Regions from separate parts of the Homo sapiens genome. Here region 1 is linked to region 2. The links come from fine-mapping of genetic effects on plasma protein levels. A gene starts in region 2. The other region holds a variant in brackets. All regions are shown on one strand. Distances are between the middles of the regions.

Evidence for each region. PIP is the posterior inclusion probability: the model's chance that the variant is causal. The UK Biobank Pharma Proteomics Project read protein levels with antibody pairs (Olink). The fine-mapping took linkage between variants from a reference panel, not from the people measured, so its PIPs are less certain.
Region 1: its variant is fine-mapped to the plasma level of the CA6 protein (UK Biobank, PIP 0.93).

The regions. Positions count from the first base shown.
Region 1 is chr1:8,967,830-8,970,738 of GRCh38, reverse strand. The region is part of intron 6 of CA6 (carbonic anhydrase 6); the gene reads right to left. Among named protein-coding and RNA genes, the nearest start is that of CA6, 23 kb to the right of the region's middle. The variant C/T (reference allele first, on the strand shown) is at 1,084.
Region 2 is chr1:8,944,340-8,947,248 of GRCh38, reverse strand. CA6 (carbonic anhydrase 6) reads right to left here and starts at 1,381. Exons shown (of 8, transcript NM_001215.4): 1 at 1,284-1,381. The coding sequence starts at 1,362.

The DNA.
Region 1 (2,909 bases), 23 kb before region 2:
ACTTGAGCTCAGGAGTTGGAGACCAGCCTGGCCAACATGGTGAAACCTCTTCTCTACTAAAAATTAGCTGATCATGGTTGTGTGCACCTGTAATCCCAGCTACTCAGGAGGCTGAGGCAGGAGAATCGCTTGAACCTGGGAGGCAGAGGCTGCAGTAAGCCAGTATCACGCAACCGCACTCCAGCCTGGGAGACAGAGAGAAACTCTGTCTCAAAAAAAATAAAAAATAAAAAAGAATTAACAACTGGGCTAGAGTTTGGATTTATATAACCCTGATGAAGTGACTGTAAGAAGATCTCAAGTCCAGGGGAGGTTCTGGGTGCTGTGTCTCAGGCATTATTCCAGAACTAATCTATCCGTGCATTCTTCCAACAGGTATCTGCACACAAGCTCTCTTTTCAGCTTTTTATATGAGTATTTGTCCAGTAGTAGAAAGGAGAGAAAGAAGAAGCAGAAATATATCAAGTGGCAAACTCAATTTTTGTTTTTCTGAAAATGTCAGGTTTTTCTCTTTTTTTTTTTTTTTTTTTTTTGAGACCAGAGTCTCGCTCTGTCGCCAGGCTGGAGTGCAGTGACGCGATTGCGGCTCACTGCAACCTCCACCTCCCGGGTTCAAGTTATTCTCTCCTGCCTCAGCCTCCTGACTAGCTGGGACTACAGGCACCCACCCACACACCCAGATAATTTTTATATTTTTAGTAGAGATGGGGTTTCACCATGTGGGCCAGGCTGGTCTCAAACTCCTCAGGCCATTCGCCCACTCAGCCTCCCATAGTGCTGGAATTACAGGTATGAACCACCTCACCTGACCTGAAAATGTCTGTATTTTGTCTATATCCTTGAAAGGCATCTTTGCTGCACATACAATTCTATATTGGCTATTTTTTTTCCCTCGGCACTTTGAAATTATGTTTCCACTCCCTTCTGACTTTCACTGTGGCTGTTAAATCAACTCTCTGTCTAATAATACTCTTTTCATGATAATCTGTCTTTTCTTTCTGGCTAATTTTTAAATAGTTTCTTTGTCTTTGATGATTTCAATGTGATGCGTTTACTGCAGGATGTTGTGTATACACACACACA[C/T]ATATCTACACACCCAGAGAGAGAGAGAGACAGAGAGAGAAACTAATTGGCATTCTTGAATATATGACTTGGTATCTCTTCCTGAAAATTGTCAGCCAATATTTTGTCAAATCATGCCTCTTCCCTACTCTGCCTCTCTTCTCCTTCTAGGATTTTGATTAGACATTTACTAGACCTTTCCAGTACACAATGTCTCTTCACTTCTTTTCATAGTTCCATCTCCTTTTCTCTGTGCTGCATTCTAGATAATGTTATTGGCTGTCTCCAATTTACTAATTCTCTCTCAAACTGTATCTAACATGCGTTAAACCCATTCATTGGGTTTTTGTTTTTGTTTTTTTGAGATGGAGTCTTGCCCTGTTGCCCAGGCTGGAGTGCAATGGCATGATCTCAGCTCACTGCAACATCCGCCTCCTGGGTTCAAGCGATTCTCCTGCCTCAGCCTCCTGAGTGGCTGGGATTATAGGTTCACACCACTATGCCCGGCTAATTTTTTGTATCTTTAGTAGAGACAGGGTTTCACCATGTTGGCCAGGCTGGTCTCGAACCCCTGACCTCGTGATCCACCCGCTTTGGCGTCCCAAAGTGCTGGGATTACAGGCTTGAGCCACCGTGCCCAGCAAACTTTTTTTTTTTTTGAGACAGGGTTTTGCTCTGTTGCCCAGGCTGGAGTGCAGTAGTGCAATCTTGGCTCACTGCAACCTCCACGTCCCAGGTTCAAGTGATTCTTCCACCTCAGCCTCTGGGGTAGCTGGGATTACAAGCGCCCCACCACCACGACTGGCTAATTTTTTGTACTTTTAGTAGAGACGGGGTTCCACCATGTTGGCCAGGCTGATCTCAAACTCCTGACCTCAGGTGATCCACCCACTTTGGCCTCCCAAAGTGCTGGGATTACAGGCATGAGACACCACAACTGGCCTGGATTATTAATTTTTGATACTATTTTTCCATTTCTAGAAATTCTATTTGAGTTTTTGTCCCAAGTCTGGATGTCCATTTTTATACTTTTTTGCTCTTTTCTCATATTTAAACCTTTTATTTCTTTATACATGTTAAACATTCTTATGTCATATTAATTGTCTGATAATTCCACTAACTGAAGTCTTTGTAGGTCTGATTCTGCTGGTTCTCATCTATAATGTCTTTTTTTCTCATATGTTTTGTATTTTTTTTTCTTAATTGAGCTAATTTCAAGTAACTTTATTTGTGAAAATTCTTCTAGGTCTGGATTTAAGGTCATTTTCCCAGAGATAATTTACCATTTGCTTTTGTCAGGTGTCTGGGGGCACTTCTAGCCTGACTGGCAACATTTTGGAGTGTGAGTGTCCTTGAGCAGGGGTCTTTTCCACCTTTTTCTAAGGAAATGAAAAGTTTAAGAAAAGGAGATGGCCGGGTGCAGTGGCTCACACCTGTAATCCCAGCACTTTGGGAGGCTGAGACAGGCAGACTGCTTGAACCTGGGAGTTTGAGACCTGCCTGGGCAACATAATAAAACCCTGTCCCTACTAAAAATAAAAACTAGCCGGGCGTGGTGGCACACTCCTGGAGTCCCAGCTACTCGGGAGGCTGAGGCAGGAGAATTGCTTGAACCTGGGAGGCGGAGGTTGCAGTGAGCTGAGATCGTGCCACTGCACTCCAGCCCAGGTGACAGAGCGAGACTCTGTCTCACAAAAAAAAAAAAAAAAAAAAGGTTGGCTAGACGAGGCACAGTAGCCCTGCACACAGAAAATACTGTAGGACCCCTTAGTTGTTGACGTTCGTTGAGATGCTGGGGAGAACCCTTGTTAACCAGGCAATCGAATGGGAAGACTTCGGCAAAGTGA
Region 2 (2,909 bases):
GAAGCTCTCCTCACTGCCCCTGGAAAGGGCTGTTTAGTGTCCACAAAGTCCACAGACACGGCCTTCTAGCTTTGGCTCACATGTGGACCAGAACCCATGTTGAATGCCAGGATTTTACATTTCACATTTTAAAAGTCTGGTTTGGGGCCTGGCGCGGTGGCTCACGCCTGTAATCCCAGCACTTTGGGAGGCTAAGGTGGGCGGATCACTTGAGGTCAGAAGTTTGAGAACAGCCTGGCCAACGTGGTAAAACCCCATCTCCACTAAAAATACAAAAGTTAGCCAGGCATGGTGATGAGTGCCTGTAATCCCAGCTACTTGGGAGGCTAAGACATGAGAATCGCTTGAAACCAGGAGGCAGAGGTTGCAGTAAGCCGAGATGGCACCACTGAACTCCAGCCTGGGCAACAGAGCAAGACTCTGTCTCAAAAAAAAAAAAAAAACAAAAAAAAAAACACCTCTCATTTTGGCAGCCCACAGATCAAAGGGAACTGGGTCCTTATGTCAAGATGTTCTGGGTAAACTGCCTACCATGAAATTTCCAAGAAAGAAGGTCTCGCAAACCCCACAGCACCTTCCGTGAGGTTACCGAGAGTCTTTTCTAAGAACTTTGTTTTCCACTTACACGGACCAACAAAGCAAATGGTTTTACAAATAGAAGCAGTGAGTGTGCTTTTGAACCAGCCAACACTGTGGATGGAAAAAAATTTAAAGCAAAAAGCCTGTAAGTAAATCAGGAGTTTGTGAAGGGGAAAGCTATTTCCTTCTTTTCCTTATTTGAAGTTTAAGTTCAGCTTATTCTCCATACCTTCTGAGACACTGAAAAGGTAACATCTGAAGCCACAATGAGCAGACCCCCAACATATGGCAAGTGGGCTGCCTGGCCATCCTGTGAAATGCCCTAAAGGAGGACTCTTGGCCGGGCGCAATGGCTCATGCCTGTAATCCCAGCACTTTGGGAGATGGGCAGATCACCTAAGGTCAGGAGTTCGAGACCAGCCTGGACAACATGGTGAAACCCTGTCTCTACTAAAAATACAAAAATTAGCCAGGCATGGTGGCAGGCACCTGTAATCCCAGGTACTCGGGAGGCTAAGGCAGCAGAATCACTTGAACCCGGGAGGCGGAGGTTGCAGTGAGCCAACATCACACTACTGTACTCAAGCCTGGGCAACAGAGCAAGACTTTGTCTAAAAAAAAAAAAAAGAAGAAGAAGAAGGGCACTTGTCCTGTTGTAAGGGTGTGAGGGTAACTGGGGGAGCATGCAGAAGCTAGGGGCTCACCTGAGTAGGTCCAGTCAGACACATGCTGGGCCTGGCCACCCAGCAGGAACAGGGACAGCAGAAGCACCAGGGCCCTCATGGTGCTGCACATCTGTAATGAAGACTGATTCCGGCGAAGCTCTTCTTTTAAAGGCTCAGAAACTGTAAATAACAATTTACAATTGATCTGCCCAGCTGGCTAAACCACCCTTTGCTGCACCCACTAAAACAATAACACCCTCCCCATAACAGCACTTCTGGCTCCGTGCATTGCGCCAGGCAGCCCCAGCACCTGCCTGATCTCCTCCCACGTCAATTTCATATCCGGTCAGTCCATGGGTTTGGTTGTTCAGTGTCTTAGGAACACCTGAAGAGCCACACAGTGCAGCCATTGTGGACAGGTGACCGCGGAAATGGGAAAAGGCCCAAGGCAGGGAGAAGCAGGATGAAAGACTTTCCTGGACGTCGGACTTCCCATGCTCTTTCTCCTGACATTAGAGATCTGGGGACTGCTGATGGGATCACCACTGCCTGCAAACCCTGCCCATCTCAGTCATGGACACAAGCCACCGCTGCAGACATGTGGCTGCCCTCAGCCAGGCATCCAGGGAGGTGGCCTGGCCTCCATGTTTGGACATTTCACGGTCCTCTCCTTAAACCAGTGGTTGATCCTGGGTCCCAGCTCATGAGCCACATTCCAATGTGTGCCTTTATGCCATTCAAGCTGGTGTGGGCGTCTGCATTTCTACATGGATTTGTTCTGACACCTGCAGGGCTCTTGGGCACACCTAAGCCAATCAGCCAATTGCCCTCGCAGGATCCATGGATTACCTAATCCTGTGTATTCACTTGGCTAGACAGTCCCTGAAATTAGCTGAAGGAGAAACTTTTGAGTTTATGCCTGCTGACAGGCCAGCATTTCCCATGCCCTTCCACAAGGTCAAACACAAAGGGTAGCCGGAGCTCCTGCGGGGGGGCTACCATGCTGCCGGACACAAAGGGCCACCCCTGCCTTGTTATGGGGAGCTGAACCCCCTCCTGGCCTAGCTTAACTCATTGTCCACTTGGTCCTGGAATGGCAAACGTCAGCAGGCCTTCACAACAAGGATGTTAGCGGTGAACGTAGGCCTCCCGAATACTTCTAAGACTCCCCACTGTCATTTAATAGGGAACATCAGCTGCTGCAAAGAACTTGCTGGAAACTTCCATTTCTAAAGCTCAAGAGCTGAAAGAATCTCAGAGAGAGAGCAAAGCATGTTCAAGGACAAGGATTCTGAAACTAGACAGGATCTGTGCCACCTGCTAACTGTGTGACCATGGGCAACTCAGCGCTCTGTGCCTCAGCTTTCCTTCCTTTTCTTTTTTCTCTTTCTTTCTTCCTTTCTCTCTTTCTTTTCTTTCTCTCTTTCTCTCTTTCTTTCTTTTTTGAGACAGGGTCTCTCTCTGTCACCAGGCTGGAGTGCAATGATACGATTTCAGCTCACTTCTCTTGGACTCAAGCAATCCTCCTGCCTCAGCTTCCCAAGTAGCTGGGACCACAGTCGCATGCCACTACGCCCTGCTAATTTTTGTACTTTTTGTAGATACAGGTTTTCACCATGTTGCTTAGGCTGGCCTCAAACTCCTGGACTCAAGCGATTCTCCCGC